2 separate regions of the Homo sapiens genome follow, and region 2 is linked to region 1. Evidence: fine-mapped expression QTL. A gene starts in region 1. The other region holds a variant in brackets. All regions are shown on one strand. Distances are from middle to middle. Region 1 holds the start of AMACR (alpha-methylacyl-CoA racemase). Region 2 overlaps C1QTNF3 (C1q and TNF related 3).

Region 1 (11,072 bases):
CCTCCCAAAGTGCTGGGATTACAGGCGTGAGCCACCATGCCCAGCCAACCTTACTATCTTCTAATCATTATATAATTCTGATTAGCTACATTCTGCTGAAAGCAGCAATCACCTTTTATTTATATTTGATGATAATCAATTGCATCTCTTCAGTAAATTATTCAAATTATTACTAGAGAAGTATCTAGGCTCAAATTCTCCTTAACACTCCCAAGACTCCATGTTTGCTCTTAGTTCATTCCTTTTGGACCCCAGGGACCATGCTCTTGGGGCAGCAGGGGAAGTTGTTGAAAGCAGTGGCTTTAGGGTCCAACTGCCTGGGGCAGTGCTTCGGACCCTTTCCCGTCATCTGCTTTAGAGGAAGGCAGTTAACCTCGCCAAGCCTTCAAGTCTTCAATGCCAATGATAGTAGCACGTCTCCCTCAGGGAACTGTGTGGATCACAGAAGCCCTGTGGAAGGTACCGGTCTTGAGTTTGGCGGGTACTGGTATAAATCCGGTGCTGCTATCTCATGCAGCGACTATGCCATGAGTACGCCAAGAGCTGGCCCACAAAAGATAAACCACACTCCCCTGCTGCTGGTACACACTTCAGAGAGGGCACACTGGAAAGTGTGAGATGTGCCCTGATGACAGTGTCCCACAGGCACACACTCAGTACAGGGCTGGTCATGATTCACCATGAACAGGAGAAGGAAGCGCAGGCTGAAGCTTTGGAGATGAGGGGGTTTCTGGTAGAAAATGGATTTTGTGAAGATCAGCCAGGACCCAATCCAGTTGACACTCTCAGTCTCTAAACTCTTGAGGTATCCACCAACATTTGACCCTCTGACCACTCCTTTCTTTGGTTTCCATGACAACACTCCATTCTGCTTCTCTCCTTAGCTGTCCTCAGCCCTTGCTTCTCTTTTCTGCCCACGCATTCCTTAAATGCCGGTGTTCTATCCCCTTTCCTAGTGGATCACATAGTCTCATATGGCTCCCAAATAACTCCGAAATCTGTTTCTAGTCCCTAACCTCAAGTATCCCACCTGGATATCTGAAAGGCACTTTAAAACTGAAAAGACCAAAACTGAGTTCCTTTTCTTCTAGTAAAAATAACCACAATGACAAACTTTTACAGAGGGCCCACTGTACGCCAGGCACTGTTCCCACACTGAACAATGGATGAACTCATTGAATTCTCATAGCAACTAACAATGCTATGAGGTGGATGTCATTATTATCTCCATTTTACAAAGGAAACTACAGCACAGAGAGGTTAAGTAACTTGCCCAAGATCACAGAGCTAGTAAATGGCAGAGCTGGGACGGAGGTAGTCAGCTGCCACTCTATGCTCTGACCACTGTGTTCAGCAGTCTTCCCTCAAGACACTAGCAGGTCATCTAAGCCAGAAACCTGGGAGCCAGCCTCAACTTCTCCCTCTTCGCTCCCTGTCAGTCCATTATCAATTCCCAGCAATTTTATACCTCAAATGTCCCTTCAATGCAAACCAACTCTACCATTAACTGCTTTAGTACTTGCCCTGATCTCTTCAGCAATAACCCAGTCATTGGTCTCTGTACCTCCAGTCTTGTCTCCTCAGATCCATTCTCCATCCCACCTCCAAATGTCTGTGAAAATGCAAACACGCAGTGGTGGTGCTGGAGTGGGCTCTCTTACCCACTAGCTGTGAGATCTTGAGCAAATGGCAATGCTTCCGTTCCCTCCTCTTTAAAACAACAAGGTATTCCAAATGCAGTTTTGAGAATAAGAAGAAATCACACAGGGAATGTGCTCAGCAGAACATGAGGCAAGCACTCAGTGGATGACAGTGAACAAACAGAAGTGTTATGATATCAGAGCATCCCCTATAAAACGCAGCAGGAAGGTTTAGACAGGGAGGTCCATTTGACCTTAGCATTCCTAAGAATTTTCTCTACCAGCTGAGGGAGACTTCTTGAACTTTTTTTGAATGACGACTGCTTGAAAATGATATACTAAGCACAAGAGATACTTGGGGAAAATTGTTGAAATATTTAGGTTGGCAAATATTTGGCAAAACCTGCAATTACTTTTGCACCAACCTAAAACAACGTAGGAATCACATGAGTCACAGAAAGTTCAGAGAACTGACTCCAAGGACAGATGATCAAAATATGACATTCTAACAGATATATAAAAGACATAAGTCTATTTTAAAAAGAAAAGGATATCCTTGGTAACCTGGCTTGAAACTTCAAATGTCATTTATCTCTTGTCTTCTTCTTCAAAAAAAGGATTTTAAGCAGCTATATCTTAAACTTAGGGACAAGTGGCAGGCATCTACCCCAATTAATACTTACCATATTTGCATCAATGACCTGACCCTTGCCAGTGCGTGTGCGGTCAAAAAGAGCCATTATAATGCCCAGTGCACACATAAGGCCACCACCAGCAAAGTCAGCCAGGAGATTCAGCGGGGCATACGGATTCTCACCACTTCTGCCAATTTTTGAGAGAACACCTACATCATTAAAAACAAATTTAATGTCTCTTTTAAATTTAATCTCTTCTTAAAATAAATATGTGAGCATCTTAGAGGAATAATCAATCTCTCCAGCAGATAATCTAAGTGAAAGCTAGTATACATCACTTTTCCAAATCTGAGCTTAGTCAGTAAACTCATAAACAGGCTTTCCCTCAAGACAGGATCCTTGTTTTGTTGTTTTCCTCTCTAAAACCTATTCCAACCAACATTTTCAAATATTGCTAAGTTTTTACTCACTTACTTTTGGAAAAGAAAATGATTATTTATTTTGTGGTTTTAAAACAGTAAATGCACTTTCATTCTTAGCATAAAGAAATGTAAGAAAATACTTGCAGACAAGAAAAAAAAGGAATTTAATTTTTAAGTAGATGTGAAGAGACAATTCTATACCCACTTCTTTCCTCAACTTTTAAATGTGTACTCACAGAAAATCTGAAATGTCCTATAGTCAACAACACATGGTTCTTAGAATTCTGGAATCAGGCCTATCTCACATGTCGTCACAGGCAAAAACTCTAATAAAGTGATATTAGGACCTGAAAACCATGGGCTTTTTTTAGTGCTCATAGAAGTCTGAAACAATGACTCAGGCAATGATTCTCAATATGGTGGGTGGAGATTTCGGGGTCCGGGGGAGAAGTAGCTGTCAGAATCTAACTATGTCAACATTTTCAAACCACAGAGCAACCATCCGTAGTACCCAGTAAGCCTCTTAATTCCTAGCAGGGGTTTGTCTGAGAATTGACTCAACAAATGTAGTAAATAAATGATAGTAGTGGGCATGTATTAACCTTCCAACCTGTTAAGGGATGGGGTGAGGGAAGGTTGAGAATGATTGTTTCAAGACTCAAACCGATCCATTTTGAACACCCATGCTCTCTTGATTGATTCTGATAAATGTTTAAATTTTTACCTTTACAAATTATTGTTAATCAACATACCTGTAGATCTTGATGGAATAAATTAAAAGTGTAGACTAAATTTTTTTTCAACATACCTGACAAAGCCAAATAGTTGATATCGTGGCCAGCTAACCGGCAGAAGCTTCCTGACTGGCCAAATCCACTCAGCCTGGCATAAATAAGCCTTGGATTTTCCCGCTGCAGAATCTCTGGGCCCAGCTGGAGTTTCTCCATGACACCTTAAGAGAAAAGTAACGATCTTCTTAAGAGAGTATGAATTGAGGATGGAGATAATCCCTTCTCTGAGACAAACATAAAATAGCACCATTGCAAGTAATATTAATAACATTTGCTGTAGGCTAATGGCATGTTTACAGCAGTTAAGGACTCAAAGAGTGAAGCCACCATTTCTGGAATGTGTGGCTTCTTCCCAGGATGTAATTTCTCCCAGTACATCTCTGTTTCCCTCTAGGTTTATCCAAGCCTATTTATTCAATCCCCAGAGCAGGGTCTCATCCCTTTAGTAAATCCCTTTTCTCTTTTTCTATACCGCATCAGTGTTTACCACATCCCACCTTAGCTGCACTTGCTTGTACATGCATACACTTATCTTCCCTATCAGCTCATGAGCTCCTCCTGCAGAATTTACACCTGATGTTTCCACAGGCGCTAAAGTGCCTAGCATCAGTACCTTCACGAAAAAGTTTAGCACCCATCTGTAGAAAGAGTGGTTAGTGACAATAGCACCTGAGAGTTTTTAAGCTATCAACAAGTATAGTATTTATAGCACAAACCCCAGGTAACCAGCACCTGAAATTTCCTGGGATTAAAAGTAATCAAAATTACATAATAAACTCACTATCTTTACCTTCCTAAGGCTAAAATAAATCACAGAAAACCTCTAGTCATCTACCTAAACACCAGTCACAACTCCTCACCCGGAGGCTATATCCGTATTCCCAGCCGACCTTCCTCCTAATTACAAGACCTTGGACAAGCCTCCCTCATCTTAAATGGAGCATTCTTAAATTATTACATAATCTTAATTATTAAATCATTATTGTTACAAGCCTCAAATACAGCTGTGAGGGTTAAATGAGTTAACGCATTTAAATAAGCCGGCTGTGCCGTAGGCATTCATTCATTCACCATTTACCGATTTCCCACTATAGACCAGGCAATGCTTTGGATTTCTACTTGAACAAAGTTATTCTGGCAGCTGTCTGAGAATCCACTGGAGTGATACCAGCCCCAAACACCAGTTTTTAAAAGGCTGTCACACCAGTGTCAAGGCAGTTGCAGCAGGTATGGAGAGAAATAGTCCGAGTGGGCTAAGGAGCAAAATGACTGTATTGATGATCATTGAAATTGGATGTGAAAGGAAGACTGGAGTCCATGATGAAGTACAAGTTTGAGATTCAGGCATTCACTGAAATAAATAATACAGAAGGTGGAGATGCTGTTTTAGAAGGAAGAAGGAAAGGCTCATTTTGGGATTTGTGGAAGCTGCCTGGCGGGCAGCCTTGACGGCGATGCCCAGGACCTGTGTATGCCAGCGTCTGCCGCTCTGAAAGGGGGAAGTCTACAAAAAGGTGAAAATGATGGGAATGGGTAACTGGGCTTCAGGGAGCAGATGCTGAGACTTAGAACGCCAGCATTTCAGGCAGGGAGGAGCGTTAGCCTGGGCCCGTGGATGGCTTGAGGGTACAGCACTCCAAAACGGTAGCCGAATGACCGCCTATATGCAGTTTTCCAGGAAGGGAATCCTATGGCTTTCATTAGATTCTCACAGGGTTCAAGACCCTCAATTAATTAAGAAAGGCAAATACGGAACGTTTCTTAGAAAAAAAAGGAGGAATTTGGGAAGGAGTCAGAGAGGCAAAAGGAGAAACCGGGCAACAGCAGTATCTCAGAACCCAAGTTTTGGACAATCCAGTTTGGGAAGAATGATCACTAACAATACCCTAGGAGGCAAAAATCTGGAAGGCTGGGGCCGACAAGGGTTCTTGCGGCAACAGGGCAAAGGTGTGGCGGGTGCAGCCTCGATCGAACGGCCAGGCCCCTCCCCTCCGCGGGAACTTCCCGAGAGCAGCCCGCGGGGCCCGGGCTCACCGCGGCGGAAGGGCTCCAGCAGCACATCCGACCGCTTGCACAGACGCCGCAGCACGGCGGCTCCCCGCGGCTGCTTCAGGTCCAGCACTAGCGAGCGCTTGCCCCGGCCCAAGCGGCTCACGTCGTAGCGGGAGCCGGGCCGGTCCACGCGTACCACACGCGCCCCGAAGTCAGCCAGGACCATAGCACAGAACGGGCCCGGGGCCAGGCCGGACAGCTCCACGACCGAGATGCCCTGCAGTGCCATGGCGCTTCCCAGTGCCCCGCTGAAGGAAACTGAGCAGCCCTTAGCCCCAGCCCAGCAGCCTGCAAGAAGCCCTCCCAATCCCCGGCGCCACGCCCCCAGCCGCGGCGCCGCGCCCCAAAGGCACCACCCCCGTCCCTCTTTTGCGGGCCTGCGCAAGCCCGCGGAGTCTGCGCACTGGGCGCTTCCCCACCCCCGGCCTCCCGGGACCGCCAGTGCCAAATGCAGTAGGTTGCTTTCCTTTTTGTGCAACCTAAATTCCTGAGTCTTAAATTGCAGGGACTGACCTTTGGAGCTCCTGCCTGTTACCGTCCTCTCTGGACGCTTTTATTGTACCAGGGCGATCCCCAGCCCAACTGTACCATTCGAGTCCCTACTCCTGCCTTGCTCTAGGGAAATAAAATAACGTAAACACGTAAGAACAATGCGAAAGCGTTTTCTTCCCTAGGCTGCAGATTGTCTTCTTCACCGCCCCTGCTTAGCTAGCTAGCTAGCTGGGAATTTAATCCAGAAACGGCTTGCGATACCTCCTAGATGCACTCGTTTTGAGTTACAAACTCCGCGGATTACATGTCTTTTTAAAAAAGTTTAGACTACACTAGGAAAATTATTTTAGTATCAGAAGAATATCAGGGGTGTAGTACTCATCAGAGCTAAATGAGAGCGCTTTAAAAATGTTAGTTTGTCTTCCGCCATTTCTACAGAAAGCTGCAATTTCAGGTTTTCAACCTAATAGGTGATATTTAAGAAAAAAAAAAAGCAATCGCAAATAGCCCCACTGCTTTTACAAATCATTTTTTCTCTTCTAGGTATAGCCTGTCAGGTGGCCTAATGTAATTTTTGACATCTCTAGGAATTTTAATAGAACCAGAAATGGGTGCCAGAGATATGCCTGCACTAATCTTAAGTGGGGATTTATGTATTTCTCAAGCAAGTGATTAAAGCAAAACTAGGCACGATTGAAATCAAGATCTTTTAGGCAAGAAAGTCATGATGAGTTTTAGAATTATTTTAGGACTCTGTGGCTTTCTCTTCATAGAAATAGAAAAAAAAATTGTATAAAACCACAAAAGGTCCTGAATAGCCAAAGCAACACTGAACAAAAAGAACAAAGCAGGAAGCAACACACTACCAGAATTCAAATTATACTACCAAGGTGTAGTAACCAAAACAGCATTCTATTGGCATAAAATAGACACAAAGACCAATGGAACAGAATAAAGAACCCCAAAATAAATCCATATATTTACAGCCAGCTGATTATCAATAAAAACACCAAGAACATATATTAAGGACATTCTATTCAATAAGTAGTGCTGGAAAAACTGGAAATCCATATGCAGAAGAATGAAACTAGACCCCTATCCCTCACCATACACAAAAATCAACTCAGAATGGATTAAAAAACTTAAGACATACAACCCAAAACTATAAAACTACTATAAGAAAACAGATAAAACACTTCAGGACATTGACCTAGGCACAGATTTTATGACTAAGACTTCAAAAGCATAGGCAACAAAAACAAAAAATAGGCAAATGGGACTATATTAAACTAAAAATCTTCTGCACAACAGAAGAAACAACAGAATAAACAACTTATTGAATAGAAGAAAATATTTTGCAAATTATTCATCCAACAAGTGACTAATATGCAGACTATACAAGAAACTCAAACAACTCAACAGCAAAAAATGAAATAATCTCATTAAAAAGTGGGCACAGGATCTGAACAGACATTTCTCAAAAGGCATACAAATGGCCAACAGGTATATGAAAAAATGCTCAACATCACTAATCATCAGGGAAATGCAAATCAAAACCACAATGAGATATCATCTTACTTCAGTTAGACTGGCTATTATCAAAAAGACAAAAAATAACAAATGCTGGCAAAGACGCAGAGAAGAGGAACTTATATATACTGTTGGTAGGAATGTAAATTAGTTTAGCCATTATGGAAAACAGTATGGAGGTTTGTGAGAAAACTAAAAATAGAACTTCTATATGATCCAGCAGTCCCACTACTGGATATATGTCCAAAAGTATCGGGGGAACCCGCCCCCAATATTTCAACATAGGTTCTTTCTATTTTCCCTAAGTGTCGGCCAGTCTGAGAAATAAAGGGAAAGAGTACAAAGAGAAGAATTTTACAGCTGGGCCACCAGGGGTGACATCACATATTGGTAGGTCCGTGATGCCCACCTGAGCCGCAAAACCAGCAAGTTTTTATTAAGGATTTCAAAAGGGGAGGAGGTTTAAGAACAGGGAGTAGGTCACAAAGATCACATGCTTCAAAGGGCAAACAAGAAGAACAAAGATCACATGCTTCTGAGGCCAATAAAGATCACAAGGCAAAAGGCAAAATCAAAAACTCCTGATAAGGGTCTATGTTCAGCTGTGCACATATTGTCTTGATAAAAATCTTAAGAGAAATCAGTATGTCAAAGGAACACCTGTACCCACATGTTTATTGCAGCACTATTCACAATAGCCAAAATATGGAATCAACTTGAGTGTCCATTACTGGATGAATGGACAAAGAGAATGTGTACATATACACAATGAAATATTGTTTGGTCATAAAAAAAGGATGAAATCCTGTCATCTGCAGCAACATGGATGGAACTCGAGGTCATTATGTCAAGTGAAATAAACTAGACACAGAAAGAAAAGTATCACACGTTCTCACTCAGATGTGGGAGTTAAAAATTTAATCTCATAAAGAGTAGAATGATGGGGGGGCAGAGATGAAAAGAGATTGGATAATGGGTATGAACATGTAGTTAGAAGGAATAAATAATAGCTAAATAATAGTATTTGATGGCACAGTTGGGTGACTATAGTTAACAACAGTATATGGTATATTTCAAAATAGTGGCCAGATGCAGTGGCTCACACCTGTGATCCCAGCATTTTGGGGGGTTGATGCAGCAGGATCACTTGAGGCCAGAAGTTCGAAACCAGCCTGGGCAACACAGTGAGACCCCATCTCTACAAAAAACTTGAAAAATTGGTGAAACCCCGTCTTTACTGAAAATATGAAAATTAGCTGGGCATGGTGGTGCGCGTCTGTAATCCCAGCTACCAGGGAGGCTGAGACAGGAGAATCACTTGAACCAGGGAGGCGGAGCTTGCAGTGAGCTGAGATCGTGCCACTGCACTCCAGCCTGGGCGACAGAGCAAGACTCTGTCTTGAAAAAAAAAAAATCTTGAAAAGTTATCTGGATGTGGGGTACACCTATAAACCTACTAACTCATGAGGCTGAGGTCTGAGGATCACTTGGGCCCATGAGTTTGAGGCTTCAGTGAGCTATAATCACACCACTGCATTCCAGCTAGGGAGACAGAGTGAGATCCTATTCCAAAAAGAAAACAAAACAAAACAAAAAAACAAAAACAAACAAAAAGCTAGAAGAGAAGATTTGAAATGTTTCCAACACAAAACAATGATAAATGTTCTGGGTGATGAATATCCTAAAAACCCTGATTTGATCATTACACATTGTATGCATGTATCAAAATATCACATGTACTCCATAAATATGTACGAATATTATGTATTAATAATAAATCAATAAAAATTTATATGTTGAATCCCTAGCCGTCAATACCTCAGAATGTGACTGTATTTAGAGATAGAGCCAAAATGAAGTCATATGGGTGGGCCCTCATCCAATATGACTAATATTCAATCCTAGTATCTGTAGAAGAGGAGATTAGGACCAAAAAAACACAGACCTAAGGGAACCATGTGAGGACACAGTGAGATCAAGTGAGGACACTTGCTGTCTTCAAGCCAAGGAGAGAGGCTTCAGAAGAAATCAAACCTGCCAACATCTTGATCTTTTATCCTCCAGAACTGTGATAAATTAAACTTCTATTGTTTAAGCCAACCAGTCTGCGGTATTTCATTGCGGCAGCCTTAGTAAACGAATAACCCCTCTGCCCAAATTACAGATGAAGTCTCTAACGAGGTTCTCAGGTCACCTAATAGACTTCATTTTATATCTCAGAGAATTGCTTTAGCTATGGAACCATGCTTCTTAGATTCCGGGTTTATTTACCATAAATAATCCTTTGGCCAGGGATATCTTGTTAAGTGCATTCAGTCTTTCAATTCTCTTCCTCCTAGACAATATCATGCATCTATTTACACAAAATCCAGTTAATATGGAGATTCACTTGCCTTTTTCTTTCTCTTTCAGGGCATCCCTGTAGTAAGGGGGTAAATGCATCATCATGCAAGCTGCTTTTAAACTCCTTCCATAGCTAAAGTCTTCTTTAACTTTCACCTGTAGTGAGATTTCTTTGCCTCCCCCACCGCAGCATTCAAGAGGTAAACACAGCCAGGTGCGGTGGCTCATGCCTGTAATCCCAGCACTTTGGATGGCCGAGGTGAGTGGATCACTTACGGTCAGGAGTTTGAGACCAGTCTGGCCGACATGGTGAAACCCCATCTCTACCAAAAATACAAAAATTAGCTGGCCATGGTGGCCCCCGTAATCTACTCCAGAGGCTGAGGCAGGAGAATTGCTTGAAACCAGGATGTGGAGGTTGCAGTGAGATGAGATCATGCCACTGCACTCCAGCCTGGGTGACAGAGTGAGACTCAGTTTAAAAAAAAAAAAAAAAAAAAAGAGACAAACACTCCCATGACTTTGATGTATGTCCTACAGTCCATTATATCTATCTGCAGACATAGCTGTACTATTTATATACTATGTTTTGTTTTGTCAAAATGTTATTTTGTTTTTTATTTGATAAAGTATATTATATTGCATTTATTTTTCTAAACTACCTTACCACTCAATTTTATGTTAACTGGCTTCCCATTTCTACTACTTCCTCTTAGATCCATCAGGATTCTTGGCATAAATACAAAAAAAAAAGTTCACTGGAAGGATACCAAGTAGCTCATAGAATTGCTGGGAAAGCCAGAATTCAGGCAATTGGCAGGGCACAGAATAGTTTGAGCTGCTAGAGTCACATTCAAGGTTGCAGCATGAATGTCTGGTTAGGATGGAGAGTCTGCACAGAGACTCCACTCACCCCTGCCCTGCTGAACTCCTGCCAGCTGTGCAGGATTGGCACCAGCCTAAATCTGACCCAAATGGGCAGAGGGACTAACTTGAAGGGCTTCCCACTGACAATTAAGATGGAGCCTGTTAAACTAGAATAATGACTGTGGTGGATTAAAACACATCAAATACTATGAACATTCATGAGTTCACAATAATGGTTTTTAAAGCCTTCATTGATCCCTGCTGGAGATTGTTAGGGCACCAACTTTTTATTGTAAAAGT
Region 2 (11,072 bases), 28 kb after region 1:
TAGTAATTGGGCCTCAAATTTCTATATCCCCTAAGTGGAGAATGGGGTAGTACTCTTCCTCCTCTTGCCACCACTACTACTATTGTTGCCACCTCTATACTACTAATATCCAAAGACAGGGTTGAAGTTCAAAATACAAAATGTTAACAATAATTTTAAAAGCCTTGAGACAATTCCGCCTGTCAAGAAAACTTTTGTCACTATTCACAATAGCAAAGACATGGAATCAATCTAAATTCCCATTGATGATAGACTGGATAAAGAAAGTGTGCTACATATACACCATGGAATACTGTGCAGCCATAAAAAAGAATGACATCATGTCCCTTGCAGGAACATGGATGGAACGGGAGGCCATTATCCTTAGCAAACTAATGCAGGAACAGAAAACCAAACACTGCATGTTCTCATGTATATGTGGGAGCTAAATGATAAGAACACATGGACATATAGAGGGGAACAACACACACTGGGGCCTATGGGAGGATGGAAGGTGGGAGGAGGGAGAGAATCAGGAAAAATAACCAATGGGTACTAGGCTTAATATCTGGTGATAAAATAATCTGTACAACAAATCCCCACGACACAAGTTTAACTATGTAAAAAACCTGCACATGTACCCCTGAACTTAGAATAAAAGTTAAAAAAAAAGAAAAGAAAAGAAAAGCTTTTGCTTAAAACCACCATTGAAGAATGAGCTGTGAAAGTCAAAGTTAATCCTTCGTCCAAATGAGTCATTGAAACTGAGTGTAAGTTAGATTAATAAATTCTTTAATTTGCTGGGACCTTCAAAGAATGTGAAGTTCCCTCCTTCACAATCTGTGTAAGACCCAAATGATTGTATTGTGATTTTAGGGTAAAATAGCTGATGGGACAAATTTAATAATTGCCCAGAATGTTCTCTATCAAACTGGCTACTCTAGGGCCCCTTCTCCGTGGTTTACCATTCATAGGTTATGGGTTAGAGTGTCTAGCTTTGAGATGTTTATCTTCTGTCTTATTAAATACCTTAACCTGGCTGAGTGGCATCTCTAGCCTTTTTGTTTGTAAATTTATATTGGCACATGGATCCCAGGTTGCTGAAATTATTAAACAGCATTTGGCTAGGCACAGTGGCTCACACCTGTAATCCCAGCACTTTGGGAGGCCGAGGCAGGCCGATCACTGGAGGCCAGGAGTTTGAGATCAGCCTGGCCAACATAGAGAAATGCCGTCTCTACTAAAAATACAAAAAAATTAGCCGGGCATGGTGTCACGCACCTGTAATCCCAGCTACTCCAGAGGCTGAGGCAAGAGAATCGCTTGAACCTTGGTGGAGGCTGCAGTGAGCCAAGATCACACCACTGCACTCCAGCCTGTGCACACACACACAAAACAAAACAAAACGGCTTTCATTTAAAAGTTGCAAAACCCACAAATGAGAGTAACACACTAACTATTCAAGCTATTTTAAACTTGAGAAACCAAGGCCCAGAAAAATGATGGAACTTATACAGGGTCAAACCACCACCATACACGCACAAATGAAAGACAGTTTCCCCCTAATTGATCTTTCAGGCAAGAATCGCTTTATAGTCTAGTTCTTCAAAAATCTCTCATGTTGCAGTACTTTATCTCAGTTACTTTATTTTTATCCACAAGTTACTTTTTTTGGGAAGACACTAGTCAGAAAGAAACTTAATTTTTAAAAAATGCTAGTTTTCAATGCTGATAGAAGTCCCCCAGAGGGGATCCATTTCAAAATATTAGCCCTCCTCCACCTTCCAGAAATAACCCAAAGTTAGTAATTTTCCTTGTGACCTAACCTCACATTTACAAGTTTAAGATCGTGTTGGCAATAAGAACTTTAATGATCATTTAAAAGAGAGAGAAAGAATAGGTAAATGGGTACTTGAGCCTGGAAAAAAATGTACAGTTTTAACCTCATAAATTGATTTTTTAAACTTTATGCTGAAATGAATGTAATCTGGTCTGGAACACTGAGTGGATGGCTCAAAACTGAAATTCTCCATTGATAAAGAAGATTCTGACAAGAAAAGCTCAAGTAAAAATTATACCACAAGGTCAAGTGTGGTGGCTCAAGCCTGTAATCCCAGCACTTTTTTGGGAGGCCGAGGCAGGCAGATCACTTCAGGCCAGGAATTTGAGACCAGCCTGGCCACCATGGCAAAAACCCGTCTGTATTAGAAATACAAAAATTAGCCAGGTGTGGTGATGCATGCCTGTAATTCCAGCTATAGGGAGGCTGAGGCAGGAGAATTGCTCAAACCCACGAGGAAGAGGTTGCAGTGAGCCAAGATCGTGCCACTGTACTCCAGCCTGGACAACAGAGCAAGACTCTGTTTCAAAAAATAAACAAAAATTATACCACAAAATCTGAGTTGAGAGAAAACAATATATATCAATATTTATGTATGGATTAGTATATGTAAATATAACAATGTTAATAAATACAATATTATAACTAGACATTTCATCATTCCATTTATATACTTAAATGTTTATACATTCAAGTTGGCCCAAACCCTTATTACATCTTATTACATTCTTAAAACATCTTATTTGGGAAAATAGGAGATAAGTTTATATTTAGGGTTGCCTTGGATTTGGTTCTATGAGGGACTTAGATTTCACCCTTCATAAATGTCTCTCCTCCCTAAGAATAGTATCTAAGTCCTCCTTTTGGACAGTATGGGCCTTATGCAAACATCCTGTGATGTAGATGAACAAACTGAGACTCAGATTTACTCAGGATTGGGGAAGACTTGAGGAAGCGCTCGAACATCCTGATTCCTGGCCCCTTTTGGTCAGGCAGGTTGGAAAGCCACCAGGAGATGTACCGAGGATGGTTTACCTGAAGTTCTGGTGGAATCCCCGGGTAGCCCTTCTCTCCTTTGGGGCCATGCTGCCCCCGCTCCCCTCGAGGCCCCAGGTCACCTTTGTCGCCCTTCTCACCTTTGGCTCCTTCATGACCAGTGGCTCCATTGTTGCCATTGTTTCCATGGTTTCCTTAAACAACCAGACATCATCACATGAGAAAACCCAGTCACTCATACTTACCATCCATTTCTAGACATACTATCCAAACTCAATTATGAAAGGGGACCATTCAGAATAATCCCAAATATAACCAAGGGGTATCATCATCTAAATAGGGCAATAGGCTCTGAAAGAAGCCTTAGATACCCTAAAGCTCCAAAGCCTGTTTATCCTTTGAAGCGAGGCTTGGAGGAAAAATTGTGTACAATTCTGATTATCACATTATCATTTAAAATAGCAAAGATTGGAAACCACCTATATAATCACCAATACTAGGAGGGCATGACATATTCTAGAAACTATGTTATATAGTCATAAAAAAGAAGGCTGAAGAAAAACATTTAATGATATAGTGATATTCATGATATTTTTAGATTTTAAAGTTATAAGTGGCCAGGTACAGTGGCTCACAACTGTAATCTCAACACTTTGCGAAGCCACAGTGGGAGGATCACTTGAGCCCTAGAGTTTGAGACAAGCTTGAGCAATATGGTGAGATCCCATCTTTACAAAAATAGAAATTAAAAAATTAGCCAGGAGTGGTGGTGCACACCTGTAGTCCCAGCTATTTGGGAGACTGAGGCAGGATGACCTCTTGAGCCTAAGAGGCCAAGGCTACAGGGAGCCTGGATCATGCCACTTCACTCCAGCCTGGACAAAAGAGCCAGACTTTGTTTCAGGCAAAAGAAAGTTATGAGTAAATAGAAATAACATGATACTATCTTTGTTTGGAAAAATATGTGTTTATGTATTATATCCATAGGGAAAAAAAGACAAGAATAAGTTACAGAAAAATATTCACAGAGGTTCTTTTCTAAATGTGGAACATGAGTAATTTTCATGTCATTCTGTATATTTTTCTGTTTCTTTGAAGTTTTCTACAAAAAACACATCACTTTTATAACTGGGGAAAAGGTAAACTCATTCATTAAACAAATTACAGCAATGATTTTGAAAGCAAGAGTTGGAAAACAATTTTAACTTTTCCCTTTGCCAACAAGAGACAATTTCTACACCTCTTCTTTATTTTTAATATTTGCTAAATTTCAGGCTTTTTGCTGTTCATTTTGCATGCTACCCTTGGTTGGTTATCATACCAGGCTTACAACCCTACCAAATGGATGAACTTTGACTGTGTTTACAAATTAATGTGTTCAGTGACAAAGCCATTTCCTGGTTAGAAAACATTTAACCAAGGCCAATCTTTTGTGTAACCTCACAAGAGTTAAGACCTGAGAAGATTTTACAAGGGTCGAAGTAGGCCCTACCCCTACATCATTGCTCCTGCTGGCTGCTGTCCTTGATGGCCAATGACATAGATTCCAAGCCAGTAAGTGTAGTTTAAAGTTTAACATAAGATTTTCTTGCTGTAAATTTGGTTTTGTGCAAGAAGCTACTCAAAAGTAGAAAAAAAATTGAACCACATTTGATAAATATTAACATCAATGAGAGTAAGTCACAGAAGAGCCAGTGGACTTTGGCCAGACCCTGAGATGAGGTCCTACCCTAGGGATTAACCTGAGGATGAAGACAATAAAACCCAAGATAGGCTTGGGAGCCCCATATTGAGGAGACCTGGGCTACCCTTTCCTGGACTGACCCAGGGTACCAGCAGGCCCGCGGCACTCTCCTATGCCTGGTGGCATTGGCACAGTACAGATGACTGAATTGCTGGTCTAGTGGGGTCTCATGTAGCTCCAGAGCATTCCCCATACCACTACATGGTACTGGAGCCTAAAAATGTTTCCATGAGGTCAAGAGTGGCATGAGAGTCAACTGAGAGACGGCTGAACATGGAGAGATCCTGAGACTGGAGGAAGAAGCACTTAGCTGGACCTAGAGTCACACAGAAGGATGCACAGCTCAGTGACTGGCATTGAGATGGCTGTAGCCCAGAGCAGTAAGCTTTTGGCTCTACTCTGCCCTTCATAAAGCA[T/C]GCTGTGGCAGATATACTGGAACGAAGACTATGACCTGGTCGTTTCGGACTCAATGCTGTTGAGGAGCCTCCCAGCCTATGAACCTGGTATTCCAGGGTGCCAAGAGTCTAGCGGATCCTTTGGATCACACAGAAGTGATCCCAAATTATTAAGGTTTGCCCTTTGCTCCTACTTTAGCTCAGGCTGCAATTAGATTGACAGTATGTCTTGCTCATCCTTACCTGGAATGCCAGGAGGGCCCGGTGGCCCAGGGGGGCCTTGGTAGCCTCGAAAGCTGTAGTCTCCATGACAACACTTACTGCAGTCTGGGGGTAGTCCTCCGGTTTGTGGAGACTAAAAAGACAGAAAGAGAAGCTTCAGAAAAAAAGGTACTTGTGAGCAATTAGGATTTTTAAATTTCCACTGGCCTTGGCCCTTAGGTAAGCTTAATTCCAATCGAATCACAGCAAGATCACAAAAGATGGGATGGGGTGGAGATATCAATGGCAAAGGGTCAGGGAGTAGCTAAGGTCAGTTGATGATCAAAGGAAAAGGCAACAAGAAAGTCAATAGAGGAAGATGCTCTTTGAAAAGCGTGTGGGTGGGGGTGGGAAGTTGGGTCCTATTTCTGGAAAGTGCCTTCCTGCTGCTACTGTAACAGCAAAGGAAGAAACTCCTTCAGAAGTGGACTTGGAAGCCTTTTCTCTTTTCCAACTGCCATAGCCCCAGATGTAGCTAAATTGAGTAGATGGTCCTCAAATTACAAGAATTATCCACTTTAAGCACTGTTTTTAAATGCTTACTATATCCATGATACTGAGTTAAGAGCTAGATTAAGATCTCTTAGAAATTCTGAATAGTAACACTAGTTTTTCAAACAGCCATAGCACACTTAAATTGTCTTAGAAAACGAAGGAAATAAAGTATTTTTTAGTCCAATACATTTATTTACTTATTTAACTGACAACTAGAAATTATATATATATTTATCACGTATAACATGTTGTTATAAAATAAGTACACAGTGTAAAATACTAAATTGAGCTAATTAACATATGTGTTGTCTCATATACTGTTTTTGTAGAGAGAGCACTTAAAATCTACTCCTAACAATTTTCAAGAATATAATACATTGCTATTAACTATAAGTCCAATACATTTTTATTAATTATCTACATCTTGAAACAACTTTAACTTTATCAGTAAATCAACTATTTAACATGATTTCTATTTCACACATTCCACTTTAAAATGTGAAATGATTGGGCTGAGCATGGTGGCTGATGCCTGTAATCCCAGCACTTTTGGAGGCCGAGGCAGGTGGATCACCTGAGGTCAGGAGTTGGAGACCAGCCTGGCCAGCATGGTGAAATCCCATCTCTACTAAAAATACAAAAATTAGCCAGGCATGCTGGTGCATGCCTGTAATCCCAGCTACTTGGGAGGCTGAGGCAGGAGAATCACTTGAACCCAGGAGGCGGAGGTTGCAGTGAGCTGAGATAGCACCATTGTACTCCAGCCTGGGCGACAAGAGCAAGACACAGTCTCAAAAAAAAAAAATTGTGAAATGATTATCTCACTGTTTGAACCAATGTTTAATAAGCACTTAATGGGTACTAAACATGCTCAAGTATGACACTGAGTGAAATGCTTATTTATACAAAGATAAATTTCTAAAATGTATGTTTACCGTCAAAGAGCTAAAGACCTAGTGGAAGTTGATTGACAGAAGAGTTAAAGTTGCTTATGAAATTTGAACTCCCATCTAAACTGGCAACTTGCCTATTAATTATGTCATACAAAATACTTGTGGAAATGTTCCTAGACATCAATTATAATTCAACGGTCTTTTGAAAACAGCATGTTGTTGCTAAGAGATTCATGAAAAAAATGAAGCAAAGGAGAGAAAAAGGAGGCCAGGGAAGAAGAGAAAGAAAAAGGAGACACAGAGGGAGGAAAAAAGAATTTAAAATTCAAGTTGTATTTGTCACTAAAAATTTAAGCAGAGAACTGGATCAAACTTCACACAGTTAAACACTTAGACCTTACTTTCTTTTCTTTAATAAAAAATGGGCTTGAATTTTGTTCTCACTCTCTCACTGCTTTGTCCTAAAATTTTCCACCAAGCTATTCAGGGAAAACACAGAACAGAATCTGTAGCACAAGCATTCTCCTGCAACCTCTCAGAACCCAAGTCTTGCCTGATCAGGAGCTATAACTTAGAGCTAACTCCTAGTCTTGTCTTCAGTCTACCAGGCTCAAACCTGGACAAGAACTAGAGTCTATGAAAACCTTCTGTCAAATTGGTAGGGGAAGAAAAGTCAACTAAAGCCATTGGTTTGAGATGAGGGATTTCATCTCAGGGATTTTATCTGAGGGATTTCAGGACACTTGGAAAGTCAAAGACACCACGGCACACCCCACCTTCTAATCCAAAACTGTAATCTGAGAAGGAAGGATTCCATATTTCCTGTTATGGTTTTGCCAATGTGAAATTCAGCCTTTTAAACCTCAGAAAATCCAGGGCTCTGCCAATGATGAATTTTAAGGATGGAGAAGGGAGGGGAAGGAGGGAAAATCCTCAAGTGGAACCATCGATATAGGAATGGAATGGAAATACTGAGATGCTTAGGAATGTTGAAACACCCACTGGACTGAAACCAGAATTTCCATCATGGTGCTGTGTGACCTTAGAGAAGTCGCTGTTCTCCAGACATCTTTTTTTGTTTGTTTTGTTTTTGGCTATTAAATCAGAGGATTGGATGAGGTGGTGTTGGTGCACAGAAAATGACTCTTCAAAATACGTGCTTCAGCGTGTTGAGTGCTTTGGAAATGGAAGGCTTCAGAAATAAGCCACGAAGATAAGGTGAGCACAGGGAGGATGGAAGGCTCTGCAGAGCAGGACAAAAGCTTGCTTGATCTTGATTTTCAGTATGAATGCAGATCATGAGAGAGGGGCCTCATGATCCTTCTGAACTTAGGTGTTTTAAGAAAGACGTATTGGAAGAGCTATCACAGGGAAAACTGACTTGTGGCAAATCTCTTATTAAAAAAAGAGAGAGAAGCCTCAGATCCAAGGTCTCTCTCTGACCTTTCCCTGCCTCCCAGTCTCTCTGATCTTCTTTCCAGAAGTGCCGGGAGGGACTCTGTCTGGAATTTCTTTATTTGACTAAGAAAGCATCTTTCCAAAAGAAATGCAATTGTCTTAAGACCCCCTCCTTAGGAATCTCATCAAATAACCAGGAAAGATTAACCACTGGAGAACTGAAGAGACTGGGAGTCATCACAAGGCTCAGACAGGCTTTTTTTCTATTTCCTGAGGGAAGCTAGGAGCCATAATCTGGGAAGCTTTAAGACAACCTCTGTTCACAGTAAATTTCTCTCCCTTCCCTTCTTGATACTGTTACAGTAGGTAGCTACTCAGACATGAGCAGGGTAGGGGAGGGCTCCACCTGACCGGGAATATCAGGTGATCATCAGGTGATGATCAAGTGGCTTTTAACTGTTTCTCTAAAATAATAATTGGTTGCAGCCAGTGCCGGGTAAAGGCAGTCTTCCTAAAGATAGCAAAAACCTGAAACTGGTTATCGGCAGCTTCCCAATAAGATCTCAGGAGTTGCGCAAGTGGGCTCAAGCATGTGCATTAAGAGGCAAAATGGCAGAGTTTAATTGGCAAATGACCTCCTAGGAGCATTTGGCTGGTAAGGGAAGAATACCTCAAGTGAGCATGGTTACAACTCCAGTAAACATACTATGCATGCTCACCTCCCAAGTAAGTGCTGGCAGGCCACTACACATGTGGACAACCCACCCCAAGGGAAGAATCAAGGGAGAAGTAACGCAAGACCCCAGAAGTATGCCAACGTAAAAAAACCCCAAGTCAAAAGGTCAAACCGTGCACTTGTCTTTCAAGTTGCCCATTTAGCCCTTTCCAAGTATACCTGCCTTCCTTTTGTTCCTGCTCTAAAACTTTTTAATAAACTTTCATTCCTGCTCTAAAACTTGCGTTGGTCTCTCCTTCCGCCTTATGACCCTCAATGGAATTGAGGAGCCAAGAATTGAGGTTGTTGCAGACCCGTGTGGATTCACTTTTGGTAACAGCACCTCCCTCAGGGCTCAGAGGAACTTTGTAATTTACTTCTACATTCCCCAACTCCCTGCTACCCTACGTGGAAGGGTGTGTAAGCATGCATACCACATTGGGCTATTGGGAAATCATCCCCATGCGGTATGTGTGTTTCTCCTATTGATCTGCCTTTGGACAGTTAATTTTCAGAGAATCTTCAGAGGATGAAACAAGAGAAGATTTCCCACTTTTCCACTACAGTCGTCTCGCATTTTTTTCCAGCTCTACAATGCAAAGATACTAAAGTATTTTCCAAAGCCTCAAATAATAATTTAGAAACATTTTGTTTTTAGTATCTAGGCACAAGAATTCAGCTCCAGGAGATGAAGTTGCTCAATGCTAGAGCCAACTAGGATTGGAAGTGCAAGACCAAGCTACTTGAGGGCACTTTGAGGGCACAGAGCTGCCACCAGAACAGTGAGAGACTTCTGGTTACTACTAGTCGAGCACCTCGTGAGAACCCTTCAGCAGCATTGCATTACACGTTCCTTCCTCTGGCCTTGTCTTTCAAAGTTCAGTTGAATGGAGCAATGCTTTTGCATTGTTGAGTCTTTTGTTGGAACTCTTAGAACAAGTTGGAAGGGATGTGTTAATTCAGAAGTTTTCTCCTAGGTAAGGGAAAATTACATGTAGGTAGTTGCTATTTATGACCTCCTTGTTTATCATCCCCTTTCCCAAAAGCAGGACAAATTTGTATGCAAAAGGCAGGTAAATTTGCAGCATGCGAGAAAGAGTTTGTCTCTAAGAAATGCTCCATCAATTTTGCAGATGGAGGCCTAGGGGTAGGGATGCAGAACTGAGCTCTACTACTAGTAAGTGACTTCTAGGAAGGAGAGTCATAGCTCCTTTTTTTAAACCTCCTGCCCCAAAAAAAGGGAAAAGAAAGAAGAGGAAGGGAAGTGGGAGGAGGGAGAAATGGGTATCCGGGAGAAGGAGGGGAGATTGACAAAGGTGAATGAAAAAGAGGCTACAGAGAAGAAAATACCAGGAAAAAAGAGCCCAGGTCTGCCCACCCCAGATCTCTGGCCATTGTACTCCACCATGAACCCACAGCTGGAGCATCTTTCCAGACCATATATCTGATTACCTCACTGTCCTGCTATGAACAAACAAAACCTAGCTAGCAAAGCAAAATCTAAGCTCCTAAACCAGCTAGCAGAATCCTTCTTGGCACTAAAGTCGTGTAATGTCCCGTCGTCCCCCCAACCCCCACCCCTGCATCCCCAACCCAGGAGCTTCAGCCACAGCCAACTCCTCACAGGCTTTCCAGTCTCTGTTGCAGCACTTTTTTTTTTTTAATTTGCTGTGGATAGTCATTCTTTTAATACCATCTTTTAAGATCCAGCTCAAAAACTATCAGTACTTTGACACTTTTGCCCAATTGCCTTTCATGTACTGACTTTATTTAACACATGGCATTTAATTAAACTTAATTTAATTAACAAAAATTTATCTCTACTACAGCCCTTCAGGATGGTTTGGACATGGGAGCTCAGGCATATTTATCTTTATATATCCCTGGCCCCCCTTTTAAAGTTTGGTACAAAGTAGAAGCACAAGAAATACACGGGAACTGAATGAATAAGAGGAAAATTGAATTACGATCAAAGAAGAGGGACAGGGGAAGTAGGGAAAGAAGGAAGAACATAGCACAATCCTAAATGCAAACTGTGGTTTCCATAGCCGTTGGTAGAGGAGTTGTAGTGAAAACTTCCAGAATGTCAGTAACTCTAAATATCCTCAATATCTCCTGTTGGTGGTTTGTTTGAAAATACTTCAGGAACCTAGAAGGTAGAGTGAAGGAGAAATGTGATTTGAATTTCAGTGGCCTGCTGGGTGTTGGTTGTCAGGACATAATGACCAAAGACAACCTTTAACTTCCTTCTGCTTCCTCTGGGGGAATCACACTGTCATGGCCAGGAAAGATACCATCTGTTGGCCAAGAAGGATACCATGTGTGAAATGGAAAGTCCAGATCAAGTCTTGGACAC

Evidence for each region. PIP is the estimated chance that this variant, and not a neighbour inherited with it, causes the effect. A credible set is the group of variants that fine-mapping cannot tell apart.
Region 2: its variant is the best candidate, but not a certain one, in a credible set for the expression of AMACR in lung (TOPMed, PIP 0.60).

The regions. Positions count from the first base shown.
Region 1 is chr5:34,002,251-34,013,322 of GRCh38, forward strand. AMACR (alpha-methylacyl-CoA racemase) reads right to left here and starts at 5,800. Exons shown (of 5, transcript NM_014324.6): 1 at 5,523-5,800; 2 at 3,506-3,649; 3 at 2,324-2,484. The coding sequence starts at 5,769. C1QTNF3-AMACR (C1QTNF3-AMACR readthrough (NMD candidate)) reads right to left here. Exons shown (of 9, transcript NR_037951.1): 7 at 3,506-3,649. RefSeq lists a silencer at 5,937-6,016.
Region 2 is chr5:34,030,450-34,041,521 of GRCh38, forward strand. It overlaps C1QTNF3 (C1q and TNF related 3), which reads right to left. Exons shown (of 6, transcript NM_181435.6): 2 at 5,198-5,309; 3 at 2,855-3,009. It overlaps C1QTNF3-AMACR (C1QTNF3-AMACR readthrough (NMD candidate)), which reads right to left. Exons shown (of 9, transcript NR_037951.1): 2 at 5,198-5,309; 3 at 2,855-3,009. Among named protein-coding and RNA genes, the nearest start is that of C1QTNF3, 7.2 kb to the right of the region's middle. The variant T/C (reference allele first, on the strand shown) is at 4,976.